Homo sapiens: one gene and its partners. Changing the gene in region 6 together with the main gene of any one other region gives a genetic interaction. Each region holds a gene or a part of one and is shown on either strand. Other genes may lie near its edges.

Region 1 (3,500 bases), on a different chromosome or scaffold from region 6:
TTTAGTAGAAACGGAGTTTCACCATATTGGCCAGGCTGGTCACAAACTCTTGACTTCAGGTGATCTGCCAGCCTCGTCCTCCCAAAGTGCTGGGATTACAGGCGTGAGCCACTGTGCCTGACCAGACATGGATATTTCAACCTTTATTTTAAACGTATTCTACTGGAAACATTCAAATGCAAAGATTAGACTCTAGTTCCACTCTTTAAACTACAAGTTTATACAATAGAAAGCTCTCATGAAGTACTGGATGTAGAAGTAATCTATCTGGAGATCTGAAAATAACAAAATGGAAAATACAACTCCAATACTGAAAATGAGTACAGGTGCTGTCTCACTGCTATCAGGTACATCACTGCTAACACATGGAGAAGTGTGGGAAGGGTGCAACAATTCCTGCAACCTAGCAAAATTTTCTGCAGGCAGAGAGATTTTTCCTGAACCATTCCACAATACTGTCTAACTGCTTACTTCAAAGAAAACGTTACTCAAGTGACTACAAATCACACAAACCAAACCAACGGTCCTACTTCAACTGATAATTTGTACAGTTAGAAAAATTTTAAATGACTATAATGGAAATCTCTCCTTCTGGTCAGAATGAAAACACCAGTTGTTCCGAATTTAATCATCATTGCTATTTGTCAAATATGAAGAAGTTTTCATCGCATCGCAATCATTACCACTCAACACTTGGGGATGAACAAAAGAGATCAGGAAACAATCTTTCCCTGAAACAAATGATCCTACTACTTTGTGCATTCAAAAGTAAGACTGACCTCACACTGGTCCACTGAAAATCAGCTCCTAAACCACAACAGCACAACTAAATTAGGTTACTTCATGTCAAGTGGTTGCTCTCCCATTTGGAAATCTTACTGTATATTGCAGAGCAGACAATTACAAAAGGCCTCACCCCTCCTCATCAAGGAAGCTGTAACGGGCTGAAAGGACAGATTTCATGCTGTTCCAAAATGAAAATGTGTTCTCCCACTTATTAAGGTCCACTAAGTGATAGGCATCTACCACACGCTATTATATTCATTTCTCATAATTACCCTACAGGTAGGTATTATTGTCGTTATTTTACAGAAGAAGAAACAAGTTAAGAACCTGCTCCAGCACAGAGGGTAAATGCACTGCAGAGACAGAACTCTTCCCTTGGTCTGACTCCAATCAGCAACTAATACTGTCCTCTCCCATAGGCACTTTTTGGCCAAAGTTTTAAAAATCCATTTCCTCCTGCAATTAATCTACTTACATTATATTGAGTGCTTTGAGTCTCTGCAGGAAAACACTAAAATGACCTTGTAGCCTTCCTAAACTGTGACAGTGCATGCATGAAAAACTGAATAAACAAAATGAAAAGAAAGACTGTAAGACATCAGATAACTCACAACCAGTTTCCTCTGAGAACAAGAAACAGAATGGAAAAGAACAACTTACTGGCAAAGGAATATTCTTCCTGGTTGTATGCCTGAGGCCAGGATTGACCTTAAGAAGGTCATTTGTGACCCTAGTAATGTCCTCTGCCATTCTCATTCCGGTGAATGAAGTAAACCTGTCACTTAAAGTCATCTCTGCCATCAAGTCAATGCGTCCACAGGAGAGGCAATGCTATCCAGTGGAATGAGCACCTATCTGGAAATCCAGTGATCTGGGCAAGATTTGGCTCTGCCCTTGCATAGCCAAGTGACCCTGTCAAGGTCATCTCACTCTTTTGGAGCCTCAGTACAAAGGACACGCCTGAAAGAACTGAAGTTCGCTTCCTGAGCTAAGAAGCCAGGACTTTTTTTCTTTTCCCATAACATTCTATGGTGTCAACACAGTGTTTAAGAGTAAGGGCTTCATTTACATAAGAATTAAGAATTACAAATCTGTGGCTGAGCACTGTGGCTAACACCTGTAATCCCACCACTTCAGGAGGCCGAAGAGGGCGGATCACGAGGTCAGGAGTTTGAGACCAGCCTGGCCAACACAGTGAAACCCCGTCTCTACTAAAAATACAAAAAATTAGCCAGGCATGGTGGCGGGCGTCTATAATCCCAGCTACTCAGGAGGCTGAGGCAAGAGAATCGCTTGAACCTGGGAGGCAGAGGTTGCAGTGAGCCAAGATCGCGCCATTGCACTCCAGTCTGGGGAAACAGTGCGAGACTCTATCTCAAAAAAAAAAAAAAAACAGAATTACAAATCCGTGTCTGAATCTGGGCTCTGCTACTTACTGGCTGTGAGAACTTAAGCAAATTACTTTTCAGTTTCCTCACACGTAAAAATGAGGGTGGCTATATTATCTACCTCATAGTGTATGAGAATAAATATACATAATACATTTATATCCCAGCTGGTACAATGTAAGCAAGCACTCAATAAAAGTAGTAACTATATTATCCCTGTGTTTGATTCACAGATCCTAGTGGCTCAGTACTTTTGAACTAAAAGATATAAATTTCAAAATTACCTCAAAAAGACACCCAGCATAGCCTGGCTGGGCACGGTGGCTCACGCCTATAATCCCAGCACTTTGGGAGGCCGAGGTGGGTGGATCACCTGAGGTCAGGAGTTGAAGACCAGCCTGGCTAACATGGTGGAAGCCCGTGTCTACTAAAAATACAAAAATTAGCTGGGTGTTGTGGTGCACACCTGTAATCCCAGCTACTCGGGAGGCTGAGGCAGGAGAATCGCTTGAACCCGGGAGACAGAGGTTGCAGTAAGCCAAGATCACACCACTGCAACTCCAGCCTGAGTGACAGAGTAAAACTCTCAAAAAACAAAACAAAACAAAACCCAAAACAAGACTCCCAGCATAGCTCCATAGCACAGAATGGGTTTAGCCCATATATGTTTACAATTCTGTGGTATGAATCCTCATTTCGCTTTGCCTTCATTTCTCTGAAAATAAAAGGGGATAAAAATGCCTTGTAAAATCTTCTCTAGTACAGTTTTGGGATTTTTATTTATTTTTTGGGAGACTGAGTCTCGCTGTGTTGCCCAGACTGGAGGGCAGTGACACAATCTCAGCTCACTGCAACCTCTACCTCCCGGGTTCCAGCAATTCTCCTGCCTCAGTCTTCCGAGTAGCTGGGATTACAGGCGCCCACCACCATGCCAGGCTAATTTTTGTAATTTTGTTTCATCATGTGTGCGAGGCTGGTCTCAAACTCCTGACTTCAAATACCACCTGCCTCAGCCTCCCAAAACGCTGGGATTAGAGGCGTGAGCCACTGCGCCCAGTCTCTAGTAGTTCTGACCAAAGAAAAAAATGTGTAAGTATAAATGAGATAACAGATTTGTCATAAGAATTAAATAAGATGCCATGAACACAGCCTATAAAGTATAAATCTTAGTATGATTTCTGCCTGAAGAAAAAGCTGAGGTTCACAAGTTTTCAACATAAACTCAGATCTACTGAGATTTCCTGAGAGTTCAAGATTTCTAGAGTGGTCAATTCCAGATCTTAACAAGGTGGCCATGGGTATAAGGGGCTAACATGGAATGAAGGT
Region 2 (3,500 bases), on a different chromosome or scaffold from region 6:
TAATTGTGTGGTTTTGAGTGTTTATCTTGGTATTGATTTCTATTTTTATTTCACTGTGGTCCAAGCACATACTTGGCATGATTAAGATTAAAAAAAAATTTATTGAGACTTGCTTTAGTACCCATCTGGAAGTTCTTGTTTTATGAATCTGCGTGCTACAATATTGGGTGTATATACATTTAGGATAGTTAAGTCTTCTTGTTGAATTGAACTTTTTATCACGTAATGATCCTCTTTGTCCTTTTTTATTGCTGTTGGTTTAAAGTTTATTTATCTGAAACAAGAATAGCAACCCCTGCTCTTTTTTGTTTTTCATTTGCATGATAGATCTTTCTCCATCCCTTTACTTTGAGGCTGGGGGTATGAGTTAGTTTCCTGAAGATAGCAGAAGGATGGGTCTTTTTTTATTTTTTTCATTTTTAAATTCAACTTGCCACCCTGTGTCTTTTAAGTGGAGTGTTTAGACTGTTTACATTCAAGGTTAATGATACGTGAGATTTTTTTCCTGCGGTGGTGCTGTTGGCTGGTTGCTTTGTAGCCTTGATTGTGTAGTTGTTTTATAGGGTCTGTGGGCTGTGTACTTACGTGTATTTTTGTGGTAGCAGATACTGTTTTTGTTTCCATGTTTAGAACTCCCATAAGCATCTCTTGTAAGGCCAGTCTAGTGGTAACAGATTCCCTTAGCAATTGCTAATCCTGCAAAGATTTTATTTCTCCTTCGCTTATGAAGCTTAATTTGGTGGGATATGGAATTCTTGGCTGGAATTTCTCCTAGGATGCTAAATATAGGCCTCCAGTCTCTTCTGGCTTATAAGATTTCTACTGAGAAGTCTGCTGTTAGCCTGATGAGGTTCCCTTTATAGGTGATATGACTCTTTTTCTAGTTGTCTTTAAGATTTTTTCTTTTACATAGACCTTGGAAAGTCTGATGACTCTGCCTTGATGATGGTCGTTTTGTATAGTACCGTACAGGGGTTTTCTGAGTTTCTTATATTAGCATGTTGACCTGTCTAGCAACTTTGGAGACATTTTTGTGGATTATATTCTCAAATATGTCTTTCATGGTGCTTACTCTTTCTTCTTAGGAATATCGTGGGTTGTAGGTTTGGTCACTTTATGTAATCCTATTATTTCTCAGAGGCTTTGTTCATTTGTTGAAGATTCTTTTTCTTTATTTTTGTCTGACTCAGTTGCTTCAAAGGATTGGTCTTCAAGCTCTGAGATTCTTTCCTCTGCTTGGTTTAGTCTGTTGTTAAGCATCTCTTATAAGGCCGGTTGTTAAGATTTTTAATTGTATTTTGAAATTCCTGTGGTGAATTGAATTTCAGATTGGTTCTTCCTTAGTATAGCTATGTTATATTCCAAATCTTGGATTGTTTTTCTGACTTCCTTGGATTGGATTTCAACCTTCTCTTGGGTCTTGTTGAGCTTCCTTGCCATCCATATTCTGAATTCTGTGTCTATAATTTCAGACATTACGTTCTGGTTGGGATCCATTGCTAGGGAGTATATGCAATCCTTTGGAAATAACAAAACACTCTAACTTTTTGAATTGCCAGAGTTCTTGCACTGATTACTTCTCATCTGAGGGAACTGGTCCTTCTTTTTGTTTTTGAATTTGCTGTTGATTGAATGGGTTTTTTTTTTTTAAATATTCTTTTTTCCCTTGAGAGTTTGATGGTGGTAAATGTTGTGTATAGTCAGTTGGCTTCATTTCTGGGTGCTTTCAGAGGGCCAAGGCTCTGTATGAGTTCCTTGGTTGTAGATAGGTTTCTATGAGGGTTTCACAGGCTTTGCATGTTGAAGCAGTGTATTTTGTTTTGCTGTGTAATTCAAGCTGCAGTTGGTGCTTAAATATAAGGGCAGATAGGCTCTTACACAGCTGCGCATGCTCCCTTTGTATTTCATTGTGTCCTCAGCAGTGCTCTGGAGAGAGGACGCAGGGTAAGAGATGACTTTCTCTCATAGTCTGTTCTTAAGCCTTGGTGGTATCCCCCTCAGCTACTGGCACTGTCTCACGTTTCCTTTGCTCTGTGTGGGGCTTTGGTGGGCTTCTCTTCCTGCTCGCTTAGATATGATTCAAGCCAAGGGTTAGGCCACCAGGAGACCTGAAACTCCTTAGGGACCTACCAGTCCCCTGTGCTTGTCAGTAAGAGTGGGTTGTGGGGTATGTCTGCAGGTGGTCTGGTAATGCAGTGGGTCAAGCAAGGGTGGTAGATCCTCAGGCAGGGAAGTGGCACCGTATGTGTGTGTAGCCAGTATAGTGACCATGGCCCGGGTTTGCAGCCCAGCCGATGGCTGTGTGGCCCTCACAACTTGCACTCCCCTGACCTGGTTGGTCTCTGTCTGATGTCTGTCTCAGGAGCAGGCGCAACCAGACTGGCCAGGCTTGTCTCAAAAGCCCTGCGTGCCCAGTTCGTTGAGCCATTTCAGATGCTCCAAGCCACGGAGCTTCCTGGGGAAGAAACCTTGGCTGGCTGTCAGGCCACACCCATCCTGGACTGGTCTTCTGAAGAGAGGTTGCTTAGTTTCCATGCCACACTCTTCTCTGTATTCTGAGAGTGAAGGCTCCTTTCCTGCCCAAGCTCAGGCCACAGAGCTTAACTCAATACCCCTGGGCAGTGTGCTTGAGTCCTGGGGAAGTGGGACCAGGCCTGCACATTTGTCCTCTGGCCCCTTAGGATCAGCCAGCAGGCTGCCAGCAGAACACTCAGGCAGGGAAGTGGAGGCTGTTCTGTGGGCACTGTCTTGCAGGAGCAGCCAGGCAGGCAGTCTTTGAAGAGTTGGCAGGCAAAGGGGCATGTGGATCAGATACACTATGGTCCTATGGCAGTGGCAGTCTTACTCTCTTCGCCCTGCAGATAGCAGGACCTGCAGCCACTCAGTACAAGCTGGAGAGCCTTGGAGGATGGGCCCTATGGTGGTGTTTTGCTGCAGCTGCACCGTGGTCTGTGGGGCTCATGGCTAGAATCTTGTAGCTAGGATCCCAGAGGACCATGGTGGGAGTGTGGTGCCCCAGGGTTCCTTTACTCAGCCCTCCCTTAGGTCCACACTGGAACTGGGGGCCAGTCCTGGTGCCTAGTTACTCCAAGCAGTCTACGTCGCTTCTTCCCTCTTCAAACACTGTGTCTGCTTTGCCTCTCTATTGGCTTTCAGTGTTTTCTCTCAAAAGATCTGTTCAAAGTTGCAGGATTTTGTATTGTCAAGTTTTGGTGGTTCAAAGTGTGGTGGCTTACTTGATATTTTGGTTCCTTTTCATGGAAGAGGCGTTTTTCAGCTGTAGGTAGTTGGCCGTCTTGCCTAGAACTCTTTTTTATATTCTTAATGATGTCTTTCAAAGAGCAAACCCTTGCTATTTTGAAATAGTCTAATTTATCAGTATTTTTCTTCATTTTATGCTTTTTGTGTTTTATCTAAGAAACTTTTTCTACTCTAAGCTTGCAAAGATTTACTCCTGTATTTTCTTCTAGAAGTTTTGTAAATCTAGCTAGTTTATTTCT
Region 3 (3,285 bases), on a different chromosome or scaffold from region 6:
ACTCTGCCTACAAAACTCTCTTAGACAGGTGAATATGCCACTAGAAGTTAGGTTGCTGGTAGACCTGGGGGTCCCTGCGGGAGGGTGATGGTTTCTTTACCACCCCACAGGAGATTTCAGTGGCAAGGCATGCCTGCAGTGGGCTTTGGGCCATGCATCTTCCAAGTCCATAGGTCTTCACCTGGGTGGCAGTGAGAAAAAGTAGAAAGTAATGAGCCTCCTGTGTCTCTGGAAGGTTCTAGGGATAGGGTAGAGGGAAGAAGAGAACAAACAAGCCTGGCTTGTGCTGAAGTGTGGTAGGCACTACCCTGTTTGCGTGAAGAGAAAACAAAGCACCTGTTAGTAGGGAGGCTTTAGGGGGAAGCCCCGTCTTGGGGGCATTTCTGGGCAGATTGTGAATTGGAGGAATCTCTTTAACTGAAGTACTCTGGCTGGACCCTGCCCTTGTGTGACCATGTCTCCTATTGCACCAGCATTTGAATTCCATGGCTCAAGAGGGTTCTGGTACCATTTATTCACAGACTGTATCCTCGAGAGAGCTGCTATATATGGGAGTGTACCAGCCAACTCCTTTTCCAGTGTCTGTAAGTCACCTCATTAAAGTATAATTAGCTGTCTCCTCTGGGAGATCCTACCCCATCAGACAAGGGCAGTGAGCCCAAGCAGTGCCAGAGGCCCTCAGAAAGGGATTAGGGTAGATGATTGCAACTGAAACACAATCTTCTTTCTTTGCCAGGGTATTTTGGGGGTTTTGCCCCAAAATATACCCTGGGCATAGCATTACTGCAGTCTTGGATGTCTACCCCAAACTTCCACACCATCCTTCGACCCACAGCTGCACCTTTATTTATTTATTTTGCTCTGTTGCCCAGGCTGGAGTGCAATGGCGTGATCTCGGCTCACTGCAACCTCTGCCTCCCGGGTTCAAGTGATCCTCCTGCCTTAGCCTCCCAAGTAGCTGGGATTACAGGCACCTGCCACCACGCCTGGCTAGTTTTTGTATTTTTAGTAGAGACGATGTTTCACCATGTTGACCAGGCTGGTCTCGAACTCTTGACCTCAAGTGATCCACTCGCTTCGGCCTCCCAAAGTGCTGGGATTATAGGCGTGAGCCACTGTGCCCAGCCTCACAGCTGCATCTTAACCTTACCTTTGCCTCTGCCTCTCAAGCTGGTACCTCCTAATTTACATCCTAAGAGTGGAACCATGTGACAAGGACTGGAGTGCCATTGGCTGTGGACTGTTCAGGCAGGGAAGTACAAGACCACTCTTGTATTCAGGGGCAACCAAAGGAGAGAATTACGTACTTGTTGAGTACAAACTGCACCAAGCCCTGGAGACCCATTACCACCGTTAACCCTCAATACAGCTCTGCTAGTAAGGGATTCGTCTCCCCAAATGAAAAAAAAAAGTAATCTCAGAATGTTGGCCGAGCATGGTGGCTCACACCTGTAATCCCAGTTATGCAGGAGGCTGAGGCAGGAGAATCACTTGATCTCAGGAGGCGGAGGTTGCAGTGAGTCGACATCACACCACTGCACTCCAGCCTGGGGGACAGAGTGAGACTTCGTCTCGGAAAAAAAAAAAAAAAGTTGACAGGATGGCCAGACCCAAGTGGGCGTATTAAGTGGTGGTGCTAGGATTGGAACCCAAGCGTGATTAAAACCCTATGCAGGCCCTTTCCTCTATATTGTACTGCCTCCTTAACAAAGGAAGATTGATTAAGCCCCTACTTTGTGCCAGTCTCTGTTATCAAGTCCGTTAAATGCATTTAACGTTAAATTTTTTCTTTTTTGGTTTAAAAAACTCTAGTTTCTTAAACTACTAGTTTTTAGTGTCTTGCTAAAACTATGTGCTCTTGAATAGGCTACAACTTATTTCACACTATCTCATTGAACTCTCCTGGTATGTGATAGTGTTATAATGAAAAATTGCATACCAGGACAGCTAAGTCTATTTTGCAACCATACAGCGTTTCATAATTTAGCATTTAAAATACAGACAGTCCCCGACTTTTGGTGGTTTGATGTGGGATTTTTGGTGGAAAAGCAGTATACATTCAGAATGCACCTCTACTTATGATGGGGCTACTTCCTGGTAAACCCATTGTAATGTGCAAATTACGGGTTTATCAGGAGGTGACCCCATCGGTAATGGAGAAGTGCTGGGAGGTAAATATTAGAAATGGAAGTATCTAAATGAGTAAGAAACAGCATGGGAGCATAATTTGGCCAAAATCAAACAGAACTAAAGTAGTCATGTCGGTAAGAATTTGGGACTGCAGGCCAGTTACGATAGCTCTCACCTGTAATCCCAGCATTTTGGGAGGCCGAGGCAGGCGGATCACTTGAGGTCAGGAGTTCAAGACCAGCCTAAACAATATGGCGAAACCTCATCTCTACCAAAAAAATACAAAGATTAGCTGGGCATGGTGTCTCATGCCTGTAGTCCCAGCTACCTATGGGGCTGAGGCAGGAGGATCTCTTGAGCCCAGGAGGTCGATGCTGCATTGAGCCGAGATTGTGCCACTGCTCTCCAGCGTGGGCAACAGAGTGAGACTGTCTCAGGGGGAAAAAAAAAGAGGAAAACAAAAAAGACGTTGGGAGTGCAGTTTCTCTACCTACAGCATATCTCAAAGGTTTTTTTTAAAAAAGTATTTTCTTAACTTTTTACCTTCATTTTTCAAAACAATTAGGGTACAATTTACATATAGTAAAGTTCACTCTTTATAGTTTTAGTTATGTGAGTTTGTACAAACATATACAGGAGTGAACCACTACCACAATCGAAATATAGTTGCATCACCCCCCTAAAACTCTCCAGGCCCTTTTGTAGTCAACTCCTACCCCCGACCCTCAGATTCTGCTAACCACTGATTTGTTTTCTGCCCCTATAGTTTTGCTTTAGTATGACTGTCATATCAATAGAATCATACAATGAGTAGGCTTATTTTATGCCTTCAGGTTTTAAAAATTATAAACATTTACATTACAGTAAAATTCACTCTGGTATACAGTTCTATAAAGCTCTGATAAATGTGTAGAGTTGTGTAACCACCAATGCAACCAAGGTACAGAACAGTCCTCTTAGCCTCTCCCTACCAAATTTATTCCTGCTACTTTGTAGTCAAAACCAGTCCCCTACACCCAAACCCTGGCAGTCACTGGTTTTTTTCTTCGTTCTCTTTTTTTTTTTTTTTTTTTTGAGACAGAGTCTAGCTCTGTTGTCCAGGCTGGAGTGGTGCAGTGGCGTGATCTCGGTTCACTGCAACCTCCGCCTCCAGGG
Region 4 (3,500 bases), on a different chromosome or scaffold from region 6:
AGGAAGAGAATGAAATAGTTTATTTTAAAAATGCAAAGAAACTAAACTTTTCCTGGGTCTTAAAATATGTAGTGATACTGTGAAATATATATTTGGTCTTTGACCTCATTTTCTGGCTTACAACTCCTAAAATACTTAAGAGTCTCTACAAGGTGATGTCTTTTTGTATACTAATGAGTTATCATCAATGGTTGGCAGCCCCTAGGCAGCTTCAGGATGGGGGCTGGTCACCAGAAAGACCAAGGCAAGATTAGAGGGCTGGAAATCTGAGCCCTACCTCCTAACCTCCACGAAGGGGAGGGGGGCTGTGAAGCTGGTCACTCATGGCCAATAATTTAATCAATCATGCCTAGTAATGAAGCCTCCATAAAAACCCAAAAGGACAGTGTTCAGGGAGCTTCCGGATAGCTGAACACAAGGATGTTCTTGGAGGATGGTGGGTTGGGGAGGGTGGGGGGGGATCTGCGACCCTCCCCCCTTTCCTTGCCCTATGCATCTCTTTATTTGTATCCTTTGTAATATCCTTTATAATAAACTAGTAAACATCAGTGTTTCCTTGAGCTCTGTGAGCCTCTCTAGTAAATTAGTCTGATCCAAACAGGGGATCGTGGGAACCCCAACTTAGAGCTGATCAGTCAGAAGCATGGGTAAAACAACCTGGGGCTTGTGGCTGGCATCATTGGGAGTGGAGGACAGTTGTGGGACTGAGCCCTCAACCTGTGTGATCTGGAGCTATCTCCATGTAGACAGTATCAGAACTATATTGGGAGGACACCCAGCTGTTGTCTGTTGCAGACAACTAACTGATTGCGATATCGGGAAAACCCCCCACCCATTTGGTCACAGCAGTCTTCTGTGTTGATTGTGGTAAGACGAGTACAGAAAAAAAGCTGTTTTCTTCACAGAGTTAGATAGGGATGAAAATACTACAATGAATACAATTCAGAAGTTAAGCAATAAGATTCTGTTATGGATCTGCAGAAGTCAAAATAAAGAATTAAACAGAAAGCAGAATTTTTAAATTAGACAAGTATTTATGTTGATGGTGTATGTGCGTGTTTCAAAGAAAATCACAATCATTTTCTAGTAGTAATGAATTCAAAAGATCATTTATTTTGTTTTAAGTATTGTTTTAAAACATAAAAATGTGTGATTTCAAATGCCATTATTTAGGGTTATAAATATCTAGAAAAACAACATCAAAGACCCTTGGCACTAAATCTCCAGCTCAGAATATCTCAGAACACAACAAAACCCAACAACAAAAACTAGTATTTATACCACAAAGCTCTCTAAACCACGAAACCTGTGTATTACTCCAAGCTTGTCGATGATACTAAGACTTCCCATTTTTTATTCATCTCAAAGATCAGCTTTGGCTTTTAACCTTCATTACTAAAACCCCCACATAACTGGGAAAGCCAATGATTTTCTTACTTCTTAAGGTGCTTAAGTTTTCTGCTGCAAGATACATCTGCCAAAACAAACTCTTCTTCACTCTTTTCTCTCTTAGCCACTATGATCTTTACTCCTAGTTCTTCTCCCACCTCTTTTCCTAGTCTCTTCTAGTGTTTTCTTCTTTTTCTCCACCTACCCTAAAATGTCAAAAGTACTCCAAGATTCCAGTCTTATCACTGTATATTCTGTACTGTATTAACCGCCTCTTGACTGGCTCCCCTGACTTCAGTTTTTCTCTTTAATACCTACTTTATCCTGATATCAGAACAACCTTCCTAAAACATCTACCCTGTTGTACCACCTCTGGCTTAAAAACCTCTGTGCCCCACTCCCCCGACCTTCTCCAAACACTGCTCCCCCAGCCCAAATTTGGTTACAGGATAAGGTATACTTTTCTCAACAAGTCATCAAAGAAAGTTTGTAACCTGGCTCCAGGCTTCATTTTCAGTTTCATTACCAACCATTTCCTTCAACTGATCACATGCTCCTGTTCTATAAGAGTATTCATTCTTTTCAGAACAAGCTGTGTGTTTTTATGGCCCTGTCTGTTCCTTCTGTTAACTGTCGTTCCCTTTCTCGTTTATAGGATAAATTCTTACCCATTCTTCAAAGCCCAGTTTATCAGTTAACATTTCTCACCTCTCCTTGAATTTACTAATTTTTTAATCATGCTTCCACAATATTCTGCATACACATTTATAATGGCATTATGACTATATCCTATTGGTATTTTTAGAGTCTACTTTCCATAATAGAAATGAGAGATTTTCTAAAGCAGATTTGGTACTTAATTTATTTTTATGTCTCCTGTGGGTAATACAGTGCCTGGCAGACAGAAGACAAAGGATATGCATTTCTGGAATAAATAATTAAGCTCAACCCTACTTAAAGTTATTTTCTTTTCTGTTTTTTTTTTTTTTTTTTTTTTTTTTTTGAGACAGAGTCTCGCTCTATTGCCTAGGCTGGAGTGCAATGGTGTGATCGGCTCACTGCAACTTCCGCCTCCCAGGTTCAAACAATTCGCCTGCCTCAGCCTCCCGAGTAGCTAGGATTACAGGCGCCTGCCAGCATGGCCAGCTAATTTTTGAATTTTTAGTAGAGACGGGGTTTCATCATGCTGGCCAGGCTGGTCTTGACCTCCTGACCTCAGGTGATCCGCCCACCTCGGCCTCCCAAAGTGCTGGGATTACAGGTGTGAGCCACCGCACCTGGCCAAAGGTATTTTCATATAGATATATACACATACTATTGTTTATCTGCTAACTGGCATTTACAAAATATTACCTGCTCAAAATCTCCCATAGTAGTGTATTTGGTAAACAATCTTCTAATACGTATATGTGCTAAATAAATTTCCATCAAGTAGCAGTAGCTATGAAGTATAAGATTCTACACACCAAAATGCTGGATCTATCTATCTATCTATCTATCTATCTATCTACCTACCTACCTACCGATTGATCGATCGACCGACCTACCTACCACTATTTAGTTGATACAAATATCCAACATAAAGATGGTGCCTTAAAATGCCAATAAAATAAACTTTATTGTGCTGACAAAACAAGATAATTTATACCATTAGGCAATCATTCACATGTGATAAAACATTTTTATAGTTGCTTCATCTAAATCTATAAGATTCAACCTAAATAAAATTCCATTTAAGGAAATGATCATCATCTTACTCCAACTGATGCAAATATCTGAGTTTTTGTACTAACTATCTGACACACTGATTTACTGAAAGAGACAATAATATGCCTTACCTGAACAAGAGAAAAAATCCATAAATTTCGAAGATCATGCCTATCAAAGGCCAACCAATAAGGACTACAAATACACCACCCAGAAAAAAACCTGTAGCTTTCATTTTATGTTTTTGGAAGAAGAATCTGAATGTTCTTTCTAAACCAATTACAAAAGCCAAGCCGGCTACAAATAAAACCTAAAAGAGAAAGAAAATACAACACGGAAAAGGTAATTAAACACAATGCATAAATTTTAAACGTAAAGTCAAAGCTAAATATAAAAAAAGAAGC
Region 5 (3,500 bases), on a different chromosome or scaffold from region 6:
CCCCCCTCCCACCACCTCTCCACCACCCCACCCCCCCCCAAAAAAAAGATCCACAACTCCATTCTCATTCTTGACCAAGCCACTTTAATTTGTAACTTTAATGTGCAATATGAAGTCGATAATCCTTGAAATTCTCACCTGGCTCCTGCAGGAAAACAAAAGTAGAAAGCTTTAAGTACTTTTATATTCACTAATTCAAATCCATAATTCATTTATTCAATTATTCAAGTATTTATTGAGCACTGATCATGTGACAGCCTTGTAGACAAGAGAAGCAAAATCACCCTTCCTCTCTCAAGGGTTTACAGTCCAGTCATTAAAACAAATTTGTTGGCCAGGTACACTGGCTCACACCTGTAATCCCAACACTTTGGGAAGCCAAGAGGTGGATCACTTGAGTCCAAGAATTTGAGATCAGCCTGGGCAACATGGCAAAACCTCATCTCTACAAAATATACAAAAATTAGCCAAGAGTAGTAGTCCCAGCTACTGAGAAGGCTGAGGCGGGAGAATCACTTGAGCTCAGGAGGTTGGGGTTACAGTGAGCCATGATCACGCTGCACTCCAGTCTGGATGACAGAATGAGACCCTGTCTCAAATAACATAACATAACATAACATAACATAACATAACATAACATAACATAAAACATAACATAACATAACATAACATAACAAACTAAAATAAAATAAAATAAAATAAAATATAAAATAAAAGCATGTTAAATAAAAACATATTAACCCCTAGGGGTTTATGAGGAAAGGGAACCTTCTTAGTACCTCCCTTTTTAAAGAAGAAAAATTCTTGACTTCCTGACCTGGAAAATGAAAAAGCCATAACCCTTTACTGTTTAAAGAGTTAGTTTTCATATAGTTCTATATAGTAATACTCCCATATGCTGGATCTATTTAAATGTTGAGAGCAGGACACTGTAGTTTTGCAGCTACGTACTGTAAGCTCCATCTGTCCTGTTCACCACTGTAGGCCTGTGCTTGGCACAGAATTGGTCTTAATATATCTTTGATCAGTGGATGGATAAATGAAACCCTAAAATTATAACCTAACTTAGGAAAAAAATTTTTTTTTATTATACAATGGGCCAGGTGTGGTGGCACATGCCTGTAATCCCAGCACTTTGGGAGGCAGAGGCAGGAGAATCATTTGAGCCCAGGAGTTCAAGACCAGCCTGGGCAACATAGTGACACCCTGTCTCTACAAAATAAAAAATGTAAATAAAATAAAACATACAATGAAAAGGAAGAAGAGACCAAAGCAAATGTGAAAACTTAAGGCAGAAATCAGATACATGGCCAGGCGTGGTGGCTCACACCTGTAATCCTAGCACTTTGGGAGTCTGAGGTGGGCAGATCACTTGAGGTCAGAAGTTCGAGACCAGCCTGGCCAACGTGGCAAAACTCTGCCTCTACTAAAAATACAAAAATTAGCCAAGTGTGGTAGCATGTGCCTATAATCCCAGCTACTCAGGAGGCTGAGGAAGGAGAATCACTTGAACCTGGAAGGCAGAGGTTGCAGTGAGCCCAGATCACGCCACTGCACTCCAGTCTGGGCGACAGAGCAAGACTCTGTCTCAAAAAAAAAAAAAAAAGCAGATACAGGACATGGTTAACTCAACTTCATGCTGTTAGAATATGCAGTTTTTTCAAGTCCATCATAGGCACAAAGTAAAAACTAATGTTTATGAAAAAAGGTAAATATGACATAAAGAAATTTGGAGCACACCCACTTGTACAGAGTGAGGCTGAGTCTACACCTTCAGTCTTCATCATCAGGAGGGATACCTAATTCTTCATCTGTCCACTGGGAAGGATCAGGATACGGAAAGTGACCCTGGTGACAACCATTTAAAAGAAAGAAAAGTCAAGAATTTACATTCTGTGCAACTAATTAAATTGTTAAATAAATCTTGGAAAGAAAAAAAAAAAAACAATATGGCTCAGCCCCTGACCACAGGAACAAATTCTACTTTAATTATTCGATGGCCCACCTGTTCTTTAGTTTGTTCATTATATGGGCTCTGGTCTGAATTTTAAAAGCCTCCCCATTTGGAGGTACCAGCCTAAGCCAATGGTACGTGTCTGTGATAGAGGGAGGGTAGGGGGAAGTGGAGGCAATAGGTTTCAAAGGTTCCTGACATCCTGGCAAAGTCCTGGCAAAATATGTTTCCAACTCTCCTAACATTACTGCTGTGAAATGGAGAAGCCTCAGGTGGACTTCCTCATCTCCAATCCTGATCTAAGGGCTTATCTGGCTGCATCATCATCATCTCAGGCCTAACAGCTATACATACTGTACATACTCCGGACAGCTGACCTACAGTGAGGCAGGGGCACCTCAAATAGTAAATGTGTGGACAGTTCACAGACACCCAGGCAGCTCCTTACTGAAGGACAACGGCACAGAGAAGTTCTAAGAGAAATGGGATATGAAGCAACCTGATGCTTCTAAAACTTACATACTGCTTAAGATTTTTTTCCTATCCTGGAAACAAACCCAAATTTACTACAACTCAAAGTATCCTGGATAAACAAGCACAGATTTCAATGTCTTAAAGACGTAATTTCCCAAAGAACGGTCTGCAAATGTGGTAAAACCTCAGTTGAGGCTAATGATATGTTAGAAAATCACTAAAACTGGCCGGGCGCAGTGGCTCACGCCTGTAATCCCAGCACTTTGGGAGGCCAAGGCAGGTGGATCATGAGGTCAGGAGATCGAGACCATCCTGGCTAACACGGTGAAACCCCGTCTCTACTAAAAATATAAAAAATTAGCCGGGAGTGGTGGCGGGCACCTGCAGTCCCAGCTACTTGGGAGGCTGAGGCAAGAGAATGGCGTGAACCCAGGAGGCGGAGCTTGCAGTGAGCCAAGATCGCACCACTGCACTCCAGCCTGGGTGACAGAGTGAGACTCCATCTCAAAAATAAATAAATAAAATAGAAAATCACTAAAACTAACTTCCCTTCTCAAGACAAATTAACTCACATCCATCCCACCCAAACCTGGCTGCCCTGGGCCTCTGGACAGACCAGAAGACATTCATCATTTAAAGGAATTTAAGTGTGAAACCTAACCTACCAATGAACCGCTAGTTCAGAAGGTAAAAGAATTCATTTCTGGCCAGGCGCGGTGGCTCACGCCTGTGATCCCAGCACTCTGGGAGGCTGAGTCAGGTGGATCACTTGAGGTCAGGAGTTTGAGAGCAGCCTGACCAACATGGTGAAACCCCGTCTCTACTAACAACAAAAAAAATTAGCCGGCGTGGGGGTGCACACCTGTAGTCCCAGCTACTCAAGGGACTGAGGCACCAGAGTCACTTGAACCCGGGATGCAGAGGTTGCAGCGAGCCGAGATTGTGCCACTGCACTCCTGCCTGGTGACAGAGTGAAACTGTGTCTCAAAAAAAAAAAAAAAAAAAATGAGCTTTTAGTCTCCCTAAGATGGCAACCTAACAGAAACCATAAGAAACGGACCACCTAAATATA
Region 6 (3,500 bases):
ACTGTCAAATATAATCATGGTAAAAATACAAATTTTTGCAGAATAAATAAAGTTCAAAAAAAGCACAGATTGAAAGGAACTATCTATAACCTATAGGATAATAGATTAACCTCCAGAATATAGAAAGAGTTCCTATACATCAAAAAGGAAGACAAAAAAATCTAGAAAATGGGCAAAGGACACAAATAGGTAACTCACAAAAAATATAAATGTAGCTAATAAACATATTAAAAATAAGTATTAATTTTTAAATTAATTATTTTGCCATCAGTGGCCAGAAAAAATAACATTCCTGTTATGAATATAAACGGTAGAACTTTCCCTGGAGGGCAATTTGGCAATATCTAACATACATAATATTGACTCAAAAATTTCATTACCAGAGATCTATTCTAAAGAAATATATACCAATGTGTTCTAAGACATGTTTACAAGGATATTGTTAATTACTGTACAGTTTATAATAGTAAAAAGAAAACAACTTAGAGGTGTTAAGTAAAGGTGTATCCATGGAATACTATGCAATGTTTAAATACAGTAAGATTTATCTTCATGTATTGACATGAAAAGTGCTAAGGAATACTGTAAAAAGGCAAGCTGAAGGTGTATATGGAGAATCCTTTTTTAAAAGATCTACATGTAAATATGCTTACATTTCAAATCACAGATAAAGGATTAAACATAGTACCATAAATTGACAGTAGTTACTTCCGGGGAAAGGAACTAAAGGTAATCTATCACATAGTCAATCTAGTTATGCCATCCAGAATATTTTACAGTTAGAATACATTCAGGTTTTACTTGAATATTCAGTTAAAATGAGATAAGCTAGAAAAAAATAAGCCAAAATTTTACTAGTAAATTACCTTTGGGTAGATGGATTATGGACTATTTTTCTTCAGTTCACTATTTCTCAAAATTTCTATTTTAACATATACATATTAGCTATATAATAAAAAACTAAATGAATACAAATATTCAAAACTATTTCCCAAATAAGTAGATATATGACAAGATGATACTAATTTTATTAGCATTAATAACCAACCAACACCTCTGAAATACGGGGAGTGTTTAGTTCTAAATCTTTCTTTTTTTTTGAACTCTGTGATTCTAGAAACATACCAGCAGGAGGATTCTGTAAAAGCTGTTTGATCTGTGCAGGAGAAAGTTCTGTTCTAGTCATAGAAAGGGTTACACCAAGTTGCTGCAATTGTGTTTTTATATTGGCTTGTTCAAAATGGGCATATAGCGTTGTAGCTGGAACTCTTCTTGAAGTACCATTTGGCGAACGCTCAACAACATAAATAACAACTTCTGTCCTGAAGGAAGAATAACCAATTTATAAAATATGGAGCACAAAACTCATAGCGACAAACCTCAGCATATCATAGCATGTGATTTCAGAAGGGTTTAAGTTGAATTCAGAAATGGTTGTTTTAGGAGGCAATTAAAATGTTTCCTTTTTTTTTTTTTTTGAGCAAGGTTTGCTCTGTTGCCCAGGCTGGAGTGCAGTGGTATCATCACTGCAGCCTCAATGTCCCAGGCTTAAGCAATTCTCCCACCTCAGCCTCCAAGTAACTGAGAGTACAGCTGCACACCCGCTACGTTTAGCTTACATGTATGTGTGTCTATACATAAATATATATGATATATATATATATATATTTTTAAATTTTTTTGAGAGACGGACACTCGCTATGTTGCCTAGGCTAGTCTCAAACTCCTGGTCTCAAGCAATCCTCCCACCTTGACCTCCCAAAGTTCTGGGATTACAGGTATGATGAGCTGCTGTGCCCAACTGTTTTCTTCTTAAATCTTGGAAAATAAGAAAGTTTTACTTCATGTAATGTTCATTTACAAATCAACCTAAATGATAAAGTTAAAAAGAACCAGGTAAATAAGATAGTATTTGTTTTTTTTTTTGAGACGGAGTCTCTCTCTGTCCCTCAGGCTGGAGTTCAGTGGCTCAATCTTGGCTCACTGCAAGCTCCGCCTCCTGGGTTCATGCCACTCTCCTGCCTCAGCCTCCCTCGTAGCTGGGACTACAGGCACCTGCCACCACGCCCGGCTGATTTTTTTTGTATTTTTAGTAGAGACAGGGTTTCACCGTGTCAGCCAGGATGGCCTCGATCTCCTGACCTCATGATCCGCCCGTCTCGGCCTCCCAAAGTGCTGGGATTACAGGCGTGAGCCACCGTGCCCGGCCAATAAGATAATATTTATAAAAGGGTTTGCTTAGTTGCAAAATCCTATGTAAATGTTATTTACTATAGGAAATTCTGTTGAAATTTATGGGCTGCTTCTCTGCAATTACAACCACAAGTAAAATCTGTTCAATTATTGCATCTCATTAATAATCATTCCTCCAAATATCCTAAAATAAATGTCTTGCCACTAACACTGAGAATTATACTTAGGTCAAGGGAAGTAAAGCAATAATATTTATTCATGAATGAACATGAACAGTAATGAGTTAATAACATTTTCCAATAACATCTTTATGGCCCTCAATTTGCACGCATCTATGACAAATGGTCCCTTCCTGGCCTGAATGAAAATCTAGAAAATTATTAGCATCTAGTAAGTTAAAAAATCCAAAATTTTAAAAAAACTTTTAAATAAATGTTTTTATCAATACTGAATAATCACTAGCTGAGAAAAGGCATTCTGCTCTGAGAGTTAATTTGTGCTTTAGCAACAAAAACATTATTGATCACTCCCTTAGGACCAGAAATAAATACACAGAAATAAACAGTATATTTATGTATACTTACTGATCATCTGGCAATGTTTTAGTGCCCTCTACATTTACAGTAAGGGTCTGGTTTCCTCCCAAAACTTTATGCAATGATTCTACCAACTGTTGTTGTTGGCTTCGAATCTCTGTTTCTTTTTTGTTGAAAACTAAAACCACTAGCCCATCTTCATCTTTATTACTGGGCATGCAACTATAACCTACTGCCTGTGGAATGACAAAATAAACAATATAAAAAATATGTACAGATCTTAAATCAGGTGTTTAATATTAATAGCTTAATATCTGCTAAAATGGGAAAAACAACTTAATGTCTGGTAATTAAGGGAATAATGATTCTTCCCACCATTTTGTGCCCTAGGAGGTCACAAAATTATAAAGAAAAACTATTTTACCCAGGAATAACATTAACCTATAGAGTAAGATTAACATTTCCTCTTTGAGAGAGTAACTAAACAGCTTTCTCCCCTAAAAAATTTTGATATTCATTATTGTTGGTTGTTTCTGAACCATCTGCATGTCATTATAAAAGTGACTGCAAAAATCACCAACTAATTATAATTTATTTCACTATACAGATTCTCAACTTATGATTTTTCCATTTTATAGGGTGTGAAAGCAATACGCATTCATATATACATACATGTAAACCATACATGGAATTCTGATCTTTTAGTTTTTATTATAAAATTATTATTATTATAAGATGGACTTGATGTTAGATTATTCTGCCCAATTGTAC
Region 7 (3,500 bases), on a different chromosome or scaffold from region 6:
GTCCCATCTGTACCAGATGGTGGATGATCTGCTTGCGTGTTCGAGGAACAGTATTCAGGTGGGCCAAGATGGCTTCCACCACATCCTGCCCTGGCGTGGGGAAGGACTAAGGCAGTAAAGAAGGTCCCACAGCTCAAGCTGCCCTCCTCATAAACTCTCCAGATCCCAAGGCCTCTCACCTTCCACGTCCTTATTGGCGAGGTACAGCTCCCGAAGATGAGCCTCTTCTTCGGGGCTCCATGTAGGTGCTCTGCGACTGGAAGACCTGAATGGTGAAAGGAGAAAGGGAGCATATAGGTTCTTGGCCCAAAAAGAGGAGACCAAAGGCCTTCTCTGATCAGTTCTGAAAAGAACAGGAAGGACAAGGCAGGTAACTGAAAGAGGCCAGCCAGCAGAGGCCTACAGTGTGCCTCCTTCCCCTCACTTTCCTTCCACGTAAGAACCTAAAAGTCAAACTAAGAGATTTTCCAGGTTGGGCCAATGGAACCCTGACCATTCTGACTCTAGGGACTGAGAATATTATGGGAAAAAGAGACTAAGTGTGAAAGGAGAGGGGCTGAGATACTAAGGGAAAGAGGACAAACATTTCTACAAATCCTCATGGTTTCCCAGCACATTTTGGGAGAGGTCGCACACAGACTCCCTCTGGGCAACCACCCAGCTCCCAACAGTGACTACCTCTATGGAGGCTGGTGATGGAGAAGGAAACTAGATACACACTAGACTTAGGCTCCAGTCCCTGCTCCTCTCTTGGATAACTTTAGGTAAAGCATTTCACCTCCTGAGCCTGTTCTCTCACCCATAATAGGGAAAGAAACAGTGGGCTAAATGACATGCAAGCTCTTAACAGCTTTGACATTCTGTGACTCTGCATCAAACTTCCCCTACCCCCACCCACCCTTTGCCAACTTCAAGCTCACCTGTCATCCAGGGAGCCATAGCCCTCAGTCATCTCTCGAACCACAGCTGTGTTCTTCCAGAACAACAGCTCCACAAAGGCTTTTTGGTTGACTGCAGCCAGTGCAAAAAATTTGCCCAGGATGTATTTGGCAAAAGTCACTAGCTCCTGTAGGAGAAGGAGGTTACTATGAGGCCTCTCTGGTCCAATGCAGACCCGAACCTGGCCCTCTAGGTATTTTCTCTATAGCTGTTCCCAGCTGCCCCCTCCTCACTCACTCTCTTCTGTCCTTCTCCATGCAGCTCCCTCAACCTGCCTGTCTACTTTCTCATTGTTTTCCCATCTCCCAGCCCTTGACACCTCTCAGCACCTTCTATCTCCTGAAGATTATTTATTTACCTGAGGGTTCCCATACCCTTCCAGAACCCCATTCCTTGTTATCCCCTCACTTTGTAGGCTCCAGCAGCAGGGTCACTAAGCAGACGATTGAAGAGGCAGAAGACTGACAGCTGAAAAAGTAGGGCTTCCATTTTGAGGTCATGGGCCAGCCGGTGCAGCATCTTCACAATGCAATGGTTAGTGTGGGCACTATTCTGCTGGTAGCTCCTTAGTAGCAGCACATAGGCTCGAACGACAGTTGAACATGCAAAGCTGCACCAAAACAAGGAGGGAGAGGATGTCAGCATAAGGAAGACATAGCTCATCCTCACAGCCGCACAATCGCCACTCTAGGACCAACTCAGGCCTCTCAGCCCGCACCGTTTCAGGTAGTCCAGAAAATTAAATTCTTTCTCCGACACCTGGACCACTTGCAACTCCTCCTCTTCCTCCTCCTCCTCCTCTTCTTCTTCCTCTGCCCCACGTTCCTCTGGGCCCTGCTGCCCTATAGACAGAGGGAGGATTACTGAGTCTCTGTTATGTTGGTGCTAGAAAAGAGCTGGAAGGAGACAGATGTGAAGGGTGGAGACTCACGGGGAAGTGGAGCAGAGAGGATTTGTTTCAGCAACTGGATCTCTTCCTCTGGAGAAATGTCTTGAGAGCCAAACACATCTCCTTCAGGCCACACCTCCCTGGAGCACAGATAGAAAAAAGGCTTTACCCAGGGGAAATCTGGCTTTAAATTTATAATTCGAAGTAGAAGAAGGAATTTAGACTTATTTCTTTTGTTGGCCAGAAACAGAATGCAAACTGTTACCTCAAATGAAACAAAGACTCCAGGGAAAATTTTCCTCATAAGCCACAATTCAATAAAAACCAGCTAAGAACAAAATGCAAACAATCTAAATGTTTGACACCTGGTTGAACAAATGTACATATTCACACAATGGTGTTTTAAAGCCATTAACAATTACAGAAATATATCTGATGAGAAATCATGCTCATAATATACTGAGAAGTGAAAAATTACTATAAATCAGCATGTACAGTATTTCATTTTTGTAAAACAAGGTATATACGATATTTTTACATGTAACGGAGCAAAAAAACCTCTGGATGGTTACTCATCAAAATGTTAATGATGCATATCTTTGGCTACTAGAATTAAAGTTAAGTCCGCCCTTAATGTCTTCAATAGGTTCTTGGATACTGCCACTTTAAGTGAAACAATGTATAACAAAACCAGTTTTTTTTCTCTTAACGTTATAAGAAACATGCCGTAGGTCATTTTACTCAAAGCTGCAATTACCAAGGACTTATTGATGATGTCAAGTGAGGATTTGCTTTCTTTATTTTTTTCTCAATTAACTATGCTTTTTTAATGTTTTTCAGAAACAAAAAAACCCAACAAACCAATCAAAACGCCCCAGGAGTCAGTTGGTATACAGTCCCAGAGCCTTGATGAGACAACTCTCTTTTGAAGACTGAGAACACTGTACCGCAGTGATGGCCTCCTCCTTCCCCCAAAGCCCAAGAGGATGAGCAGGCAGGGTTCTTACCGAGCAGACCTCAGGAGAGTCAGGGCCTGTGGGGCCTGGCCAGCCAGGAGACAGTCTTGGATCCGTACCATAGCTTCTGCCCGCTGCTCCTCCACTGGCACCTCTGAGGCCGCATCAAAGGGAACCACGGAGTCCATGCTGAGCTCAGAATTCTAGAGATGGATAAAGCTATGGGAGCGGAGGGAGTGGAAAACCCAGATTGTATACCCTGAGCACTATTCTCAAAAAAGACAGGGTTTCTGTAACCACCTACCTGGGCACAGCACTGTAGCTGCTCAGCCAGGGCTGGCCACACAGCCTCCACTTCTTCTGGGCTAGATGGGACATTACCAGAAACAATGGCCTGGTCTAGGACCTTCTTCTTCTTCTTCCTTCTCTTCTTTTGTTTGTTCTGTGGGGAAAGAATTGTATTAGGATGTCAAGAGAGCTAAAGAGGGCTTTCCCCATCAGTGTCTTTTCTATTACAAAACTAATTAACTGGACATTCACAGAGTGCCCATTATCTGCTATCCATCGGTAATAGAAAGCAATAGTGAACAGCATATTTCCTTCCCTTTGAGGAGCTTTTACTCTAGTGGTGGAGACAGGAAGTAGAAAGGTAATTACACTAGAGTGTGGATAAAAGCTATAATGTGAGTGAGCATAAGATGTCATGGCAAAACTCC

The links.
Region 1: changes in NUP54 (region 6) and NFYC together harm fitness more than expected from each alone (negative genetic interaction), as found in Homo sapiens cells (one large-scale study listed by BioGRID).
Region 2: changes in NUP54 (region 6) and RNGTT together harm fitness more than expected from each alone (negative genetic interaction), as found in Homo sapiens cells (one large-scale study listed by BioGRID).
Region 3: changes in NUP54 (region 6) and GNL3L together harm fitness more than expected from each alone (negative genetic interaction), as found in Homo sapiens cells (one large-scale study listed by BioGRID).
Region 4: changes in NUP54 (region 6) and GOLT1B together harm fitness more than expected from each alone (negative genetic interaction), as found in Homo sapiens cells (one large-scale study listed by BioGRID).
Region 5: changes in NUP54 (region 6) and NDUFB2 together harm fitness more than expected from each alone (negative genetic interaction), as found in Homo sapiens cells (one large-scale study listed by BioGRID).
Region 7: changes in NUP54 (region 6) and TIMELESS together harm fitness more than expected from each alone (negative genetic interaction), as found in Homo sapiens cells (one large-scale study listed by BioGRID).

What each region holds. Positions count from the first base shown.
Region 1 is NC_000001.11:40,694,704-40,698,203, reverse strand, and holds part of NFYC (nuclear transcription factor Y subunit gamma), read right to left. Parts: intron 2,599-3,500; exon of another isoform or gene 2,459-2,598; intron 1-2,458. UniProt on the Homo sapiens protein: Component of the sequence-specific heterotrimeric transcription factor (NF-Y) which specifically recognizes a 5'-CCAAT-3' box motif found in the promoters of its target genes.
Region 2 is NC_000006.12:88,908,119-88,911,618, reverse strand, and holds part of RNGTT (mRNA-capping enzyme), read left to right. Parts: intron 1-3,500.
Region 3 is NC_000023.11:54,561,219-54,564,503, forward strand, and holds part of GNL3L (guanine nucleotide-binding protein-like 3-like protein), read left to right. Parts: 3' UTR 1-3,285.
Region 4 is NC_000012.12:21,508,289-21,511,788, reverse strand, and holds part of GOLT1B (vesicle transport protein GOT1B), read right to left. Parts: intron 3,407-3,500; coding exon 3,228-3,406; intron 1-3,227. UniProt on the Homo sapiens protein: May be involved in fusion of ER-derived transport vesicles with the Golgi complex.
Region 5 is NC_000007.14:140,703,208-140,706,707, reverse strand, and holds the end of NDUFB2 (NADH dehydrogenase [ubiquinone] 1 beta subcomplex subunit 2, mitochondrial precursor), read right to left. Parts: intron 1,849-3,500; coding exon 1,774-1,848; 3' UTR 1,745-1,773; intron 146-1,744; 3' UTR 65-145; downstream 1-64. UniProt on the Homo sapiens protein: Accessory subunit of the mitochondrial membrane respiratory chain NADH dehydrogenase (Complex I), that is believed not to be involved in catalysis. Complex I functions in the transfer of electrons from NADH to the respiratory chain.
Region 6 is NC_000004.12:76,131,398-76,134,897, forward strand, and holds part of NUP54 (nucleoporin p54), read right to left. Parts: intron 2,966-3,500; coding exon 2,778-2,965; intron 1,323-2,777; coding exon 1,126-1,322; intron 1-1,125. UniProt on the Homo sapiens protein: Component of the nuclear pore complex, a complex required for the trafficking across the nuclear membrane.
Region 7 is NC_000012.12:56,421,927-56,425,426, forward strand, and holds part of TIMELESS (protein timeless homolog), read right to left. Parts: intron 3,227-3,500; coding exon 3,089-3,226; intron 2,988-3,088; coding exon 2,836-2,987; intron 1,969-2,835; coding exon 1,871-1,968; intron 1,782-1,870; coding exon 1,658-1,781; intron 1,550-1,657; coding exon 1,348-1,549; intron 1,067-1,347; coding exon 921-1,066; intron 266-920; coding exon 180-265; intron 91-179; coding exon 1-90. UniProt on the Homo sapiens protein: Plays an important role in the control of DNA replication, maintenance of replication fork stability, maintenance of genome stability throughout normal DNA replication, DNA repair and in the regulation of the circadian clock.